Homo sapiens: one gene and its partner. The protein of the gene in region 1 interacts with the protein of each later gene in a pairwise test. Each region holds a gene or a part of one and is shown on either strand. Other genes may lie near its edges.

Region 1 (3,657 bases):
ACAACCTATTTTAATAAGTGGGAAAAGGATGTGAATAGACATGTCTTCAAAGATGATATACAAGTGGCCAATAATAGGAAAAAATGCTCAACTTCACTAATTATGTGGGAAATGCAAATCAAAACCACTGGGTGATATCCCTTTACATCCATTAGAATGGCTACAATTAAAAAAACAGAATAACAAGTGTTGGCAAGGATATAGAGAAACTGGAATCCTTGTGTATTACTAGTGGGAATGTAAAATGGTGTAGTCCTATGGAAAACAGGATGATGATTTCTCAAAAATTAAACATAAAATTACCATATGATCCAGCAACTCCACTTCTGGGTAGATACCCACAAGAATTGAAAGCAAGGACCCAAACAGCTGTTTGTACACTCTTGTTCATAGCAGCACTATTCACAATATCCAAAAAGTGGAATTGTCCATTGACCAATGAATTGGTAAACAAAATGTGGTCTATACATACAATGAAATATTATTCAGCCTTAAAAAGGAAGAGGAATTATGAAACATGTTGCAGTGCGGATGAATCTTATCATGATGCTAAGTGAATAAGCCAGACACAAAAAATCCAAATGTATCATTCTACCTGTATGAGGTACTTTAAGTAGTCAATTCATAGAGACAGAATAAGATTGTGGCTGCCAGAGAATGAGGGATGGGGGAAAAGGGAAATTGTTTAATGGATACAGCATTTCAGTTTTGCAAGATGTAAAAGTTTTGGAGATCCATTGCACAACAGGGTGAATACAGGTAGCACTACTGAACTGTACAATACAAAATGGGCAAGATGGTAAATGTAATATTATGCACTTTTGCTACAATAAGAAAAAGTTAACAATAAAGATTAAAAGTGTCCTTTTTTTAAAAAAAGAATGAAAGATGATTGAGTTTTTTTGATAGGACAAGAGTCTGGGATACAGTTTAAGTGACTGAAAGCGAAAAGAAACTACATGTGATGTTCATACTCAGTATTAAAATCTGGTAGAAAAAGTAATAGTAAAATTTAGTAACTATTATTTTTATTGAGAACCTGCTGTGTTTTGTGCAGTATACTAGTAAAGTGCACAGGATGATCAGGGACTCTTATTCTTGGCAAAAAAACAAAACAAAACAAAAAACTAAACTAAAAAAGGCATATTTGATAGCATAAAGCCAAAAGTTCTAACAAAGAACAATTAATTTCAATGGAACAAGGGTGAAACAAATTCTGGGGAACAGCTTGCTTGTCCAGTCTTTTAGAATATATTTCTGGGGATATGGGTATATTCCTAAGTTCAAGAAAAAAAAATTGTAGCTTCATGGAGAGTTGAGGCATAGGAGAGTTGAGGCATAGTCATTCTTTCACTGGTTGGCCATGTCAAGATAGGTGAAGCTTTAATAGTTTTCAGAAGGATATACAGGGCTGATGGACTTGGCATTGTTTCTAACAAGTAAGATAAAGCAGGCAGATTGGTGAGGATTCATCTCTGAAAGTTAATGAAGACCTACACACTGAGCCCCCTCCTTCAAGCCTTGGCTGCCCACACATGTTGCCCTGCAACACTTGTCTGTTTTATCCTACTCATCCTACTAGATCTGGGTGTCTAGACCACTTGCATAAGTGTCCTCAGGTTGTTGAAATCTAATCCCCACAGATTAGCAAAGTGATCTTGGCCAATTACATAACCATTATGTGCTTCCTTTTCTTTGTAAAACAGGAACACCCATCATCGCTACCTCCTGAGGTTATTATGCAGATTAAATGAGTATGTGTGCACCATGTAGGCCACTGCCTGGCACATGCTAAGTGCTATGTAGATAAATGCTCATCATGTAATAAGGGCTCTGTGTTTCTGCTCATTGTCAGCATCATTAGCAGCATTATTACATGACTCAGCAATTTCCTTGTGTTCTGTGTCAATCAGCTTCATGCAGTTTCTCCTCTTTCTTGTTCATTGTGTCTATTTCATCTTCTCTTTCTCCTTTTAGAAAGGGAGTTTGGGCTTGAAATCCCACAAAAGGAGATTTCTAAGAAAGCTTCATTTCAAAAGGATATGGTAGGTGAGTTCACAAGAGATGGTTCATGGTGTTCCATTTTAGAAGAACTGAGGCTGGATGCTGACCGCACAAAGAAAGATGAGCAAAATCAAATTCAACCCATGAGTCACAGTGCTTTCTTCAACAAGAAAACATTGAACACAGAAAGCAATTGTGAATATAAGGACCCTGGGAAAATGATTCGCACGAGGCCCCACCTTGCTTCTTCACAGAAACAACCTCAGAAATGTTGCTTATTTACAGAAAGTTTGAAGCTGAACCTAGAAGTGAACGGTCAGAATGAAAGCAATGACACAGAACAGCTTGATGACGTTGTTGGGTCTGGTCAGCTATTCAGCCATAGCTCTTCTGATGCCTGCAGCAAGAATATTCATACAGGAGAGACATTTTGCAAAGGTAACCAGTGTAGAAAAGTCTGTGGCCATAAACAGTCACTCAAGCAACATCAAATTCATACTCAGAAGAAACCAGATGGATGTTCTGAATGTGGGGGGAGCTTCACCCAGAAGTCACACCTCTTTGCCCAACAGAGAATTCATAGTGTAGGAAACCTCCATGAATGTGGCAAATGTGGAAAAGCCTTCATGCCACAACTAAAACTCAGTGTATATCTGACAGATCATACAGGTGATATACCCTGTATATGCAAGGAATGTGGGAAGGTCTTTATTCAGAGATCAGAATTGCTTACGCACCAGAAAACACACACTAGAAAGAAGCCCTATAAATGCCATGACTGTGGAAAAGCCTTTTTCCAGATGTTATCTCTCTTCAGACATCAGAGAACTCACAGTAGAGAAAAACTCTATGAATGCAGTGAATGTGGCAAAGGCTTCTCCCAAAACTCAACCCTCATTATACATCAGAAAATTCATACTGGTGAGAGACAGTATGCATGCAGTGAATGTGGGAAAGCCTTTACCCAGAAGTCAACACTCAGCTTGCACCAGAGAATCCACTCAGGGCAGAAGTCCTATGTGTGTATCGAATGCGGGCAGGCCTTCATCCAGAAGGCACACCTGATTGTCCATCAAAGAAGCCACACAGGAGAAAAACCTTATCAGTGCCACAACTGTGGGAAATCCTTCATTTCCAAGTCACAGCTTGATATACATCATCGAATTCATACAGGGGAGAAACCTTATGAATGCAGTGACTGTGGAAAAACCTTCACCCAAAAGTCACACCTGAATATACACCAGAAAATTCATACTGGAGAAAGACACCATGTATGCAGTGAATGCGGGAAAGCCTTCAACCAGAAGTCAATACTCAGCATGCATCAGAGAATTCACACCGGAGAGAAGCCTTACAAATGCAGTGAATGTGGGAAAGCCTTCACTTCTAAGTCTCAATTCAAAGAGCATCAGCGAATTCACACGGGTGAGAAACCCTATGTGTGCACTGAATGTGGGAAGGCCTTCAACGGCAGGTCAAATTTCCATAAACATCAAATAACTCACACTAGAGAGAGGCCTTTTGTCTGTTACAAATGTGGGAAGGCTTTTGTCCAGAAATCAGAGTTGATTACCCATCAAAGAACTCACATGGGAGAGAAACCCTATGAATGCCTTGACTGTGGGAAATCGTTCAGTAAGAAACCACAACTCA
Region 2 (3,657 bases), on another chromosome or scaffold:
TTCATTAACTTAGAATTATATCTAGTAATTACTCTTGGAAATTCCTTTTATTAGTTTCCTCTTTGGATGCTCTGTTTCCTGGGTCCCATGTCTATGTTTTATACATGTTACCACCTTTATTTTGGTGGGGAACATCCCCTAGTAGCTTTCTGAGAAAGAATTTTTGAGAACTTGAATATCTGAAAATATTTTTATTCTGTCATTGCCCTTAAGTTGCCTGGGCATAGAATTCTAAGTGGAAACTATTTTCCTTCATAATTCTGAAGACATTGCTTCACTGTCTTCTAGCTTCCATGATTGGCAAGTTTTTATTAAATTTTTTTTATCCTTGATCCTTTCTACATGACCCATTCTTCCCCCTTTGTATGTTTGTTTCATGTGTTTTCTGAATTGTCTTGTTTTTTTTAATTTCTCCTTTTTATGTTTGTTTTGAACAAATATGGAATCAGAAAGCTGCTTTACTTTGTTTTTCTCCTGTCCTTTTAGAATGAACTCAGTGGGGAAGGATTTCTCCTCTCATAAATAAAAGCTTGTGCAGTCCTCTGTCTTTTCTGATTACTGTTAAAAAACAGTTCTAAATATAAAATCAATTTAAGAAACAAAACACAAAAACTAAGCCATTAGGTAATTCAGTCTGTGTAATAGTTAAGGCTTCCAGCACTTTAAAAGTGACAGCCACTCCCTCTCTTTTTTAGGACCTTCAAGCTGCAGGAGGCGAGGACAGGGGTATGGCCTTTCCTCTCTCCTGACCTCGCTTTGTTATCTACCACCCTCACCCTTATTGCCAGCCTTGACACCTGCCTGCTCTAGGGTTGAAACACTAGGGAGGATGGAGATGAGAATAGAAGGCAGGAAGGTCTAACTTGTCTAGGATTGTTGTTAAATTGGCTTTATGCTCTCCAGGCTCAGCCAGTGTTTAGCTCTGACTTTTTTCCCTGAATTCTTTTCGGGATTAAGACAGGTCCAGCAGTGAACTCTTGATTGCCCTTTACGTGTCTTGACTAGCTATTCTCTCCTTGTCATGTTTCTTTGAGGATTTGTTTTGTAAAGATTCTTTTTTCAAGGGGCTTTCATTGTTCCCTCCTAGTGAACCCTTAGAAATTATTAACATCGTTCCAGATAATCTCTTCCTCTCATATTTTCATAGAAGGACCATGGATAACTTACTCTTTTCTCTGACAGCCAGTGGAGTTATAATTTTTAGCTGCATGTTTCTATTCAGCTGCCATAGGCTCTTTCAGCCAGACTCATCTATGGACTTTTTCCAGGGGTAACTCTGATACCACTAACTGCATCTCACTAATGCCAAGGCACACATATCCAACTCTCTGAGTCGTCCCAGTGAAGTCCCTCTTTTAACCTGAGGTTATCAAGAACTATACCTCATCTTTCTTGGTGGTGATGGGGCACTCATAGCACAGTTTTCTTCAAAGGAATCCTTCTCTCAGTTTTCCTTTTTCTTTACCTGTTTTCTCCTGAACAAGAGTGAGGAATTCCAGAATTGTACAAGTAATCTTTGACTACCTGTTTGGAGGGATGTTTTGCAGTTCAATTTGGAATTTGATATATATTACATCTTGGTGCCTTACATTTGTTTACACTGGTCTTTCCCAATACTGCTGATCCATGGTTGTCTGTTACTATTTAAGAATGAGACACTAAAATGCTAATTGCAAACTCCATGGATATAGACAGAAATTGTTGACTGGTAGACTTGACTATATGGTACTCAGGTAAGATACTCTGGCCATTTTGTTGAGTGACTCCTGAATATGACAATCTTAGGTCTTTTCTGTTGAGTCAATTATGCTAAAGAGATGTTCTCTTTGCCAGAATTCTGAGATTGAAAAAGGGGATGGGGGAATGGGCTTTTCACCATTCAGCATGTCAACTTTTACTTAATTCCCATTTTTCAGTAGAGAGCTTGACTCGTTTCCTCATGGTGTCCAACATCTCTGATCACTGAGACTCTCTTGTTCAATATTTACAGAAATAATCATTGCATCTTACGGTAAGATAAGGCATCTAACTTTCTAATGGTTCTTTAGACTTTCAACCAGTCCTGTTTCTAGCCTTGAAGAGTATCTCATGCATTCAGTTCCTGAGCCCCTCTGATGTTATCATATTCAAGATGGCTTGATTTTTATTGGCCTCTCCCATCTGTGGAGACGTAAGTTCCAGTTTTCTTATTTATGTTAAGCCAGGTACCACTCTTAAAATCTACTTTAAATTCTTGAAAATTTAGTTAATATCTCATCTGGTGGCATATCCTTTACTTTTTTCTCTTTCCTTATGGCTCTTTATAATTTACATAATTTCTTAACTGTCATGTTAATGATGTTTCAGGAGGGAGTAAAGAAAATCCCATGTGTTTAGGCCCTTTTACTAATATGGAGACTTTCCTAAATATCAGGCATATTATTATGTATATGGTTAAAAATAATTTATATGATGCCATCACAGTCTGTGAGAGCAAGTTTATTCAACATTTTACCTAGTTATAGATGAGTCTCAGGTAGGTAAAGTGATTTTCTTAAAGTCACACAGTTAGAAAGTTGAAGAGGCAAGATTTCAACTTGGGTATCATTTCTGCAAGTTCCATGTTTTTTATAAAACATCACAACTGCCTTTTGACTGAAATTCAATTCCTCTTCGGCTGTTGGATCTCTTTACTTTTGTGGTACCAACACGATATGCTTTATTTGACAATAGACCCAGATACAGTGGTGCTGACAGAATCCACTAGCAAAGTGCTCTGTAGTAATTTGCTTGTTCACTGGAGCTTGCTCAATGCTTTTTCACAAATCATTAGGTATTTCATTTCTAGATGGTATTTTACCTAAGCAGCATTTTTCATTGACACTTAATCCAAATCATCTTAAATTGTGTCACAATAAATTTATATTGTACTGGTAGCCATAAAAGTCTGAGAATTAGTTGAGTACAACAGTCAACAAGTGAATACTGCCTATGGATCATTATGATGGAGAAGTTGCCTGAAAGCAGAACAACAGGACATAGGCACATTTCAGGTAGAGACATAAGTTAGATACACACACAAAAAAATACCCAATCCATAGGATGACCAGAAAGCACCATTAAGGTAGCTAGTTCTCATTTTCTTGACTCAGGCCCCTTCTAAACAGACAGGGCTGATGGGGTCATTTATGGCTTTATATAAACAGGAAACAACACTTAAAACATATTTATACATAGAGCCACATGACAAAAAGTGACATTTATTGATCAGAAGCTCCACTTGGGTTGTATTTTCCTTTTTATGCCTGGCTTTCTGTAAAAAGGTCTCCTGCCATATGATCAGTTCATTAATTAGGTGTCATCCTGCCTCACCCCAAGTTAGATAGTCACAAAGAGTTTCTATAATGACAGTTTAACCTCTGAGCCTCCTGGGAAATTAAATTCATCTGCATTTTTTCATCAGTCCAAAGAATTCCTCTTTAAGGCTCAAGTCATTGGTCCTTGGCATCCTCCCACAGGGATGAGCTCTTCAATGTCTACCTGTGTTTCTTTTTAATTGTTCATTATCCAGGTCATGCAGGTGCTCCCTAATTTCCCCTGTGGCTAAGAGCCTCACCAGAGTATAAACACTCTCCCTCTTTTTGTGGCACTTTTAATTGTCAGTATTTCTCATTCTTC

Evidence for each region.
Region 2: the proteins of ZNF175 (region 1) and LPXN interact in a two-hybrid assay, tested with the Homo sapiens proteins (one large-scale study listed by BioGRID and IntAct).

What each region holds. Positions count from the first base shown.
Region 1 is NC_000019.10:51,584,650-51,588,306, forward strand, and holds part of ZNF175 (zinc finger protein 175), read left to right. Parts: intron 1-1,977; coding exon 1,978-3,657.
Region 2 is NC_000011.10:58,544,708-58,548,364, reverse strand, and holds part of LPXN (leupaxin), read left to right. Parts: intron 1-3,657. UniProt on the Homo sapiens protein: Transcriptional coactivator for androgen receptor (AR) and serum response factor (SRF). Contributes to the regulation of cell adhesion, spreading and cell migration and acts as a negative regulator in integrin-mediated cell adhesion events.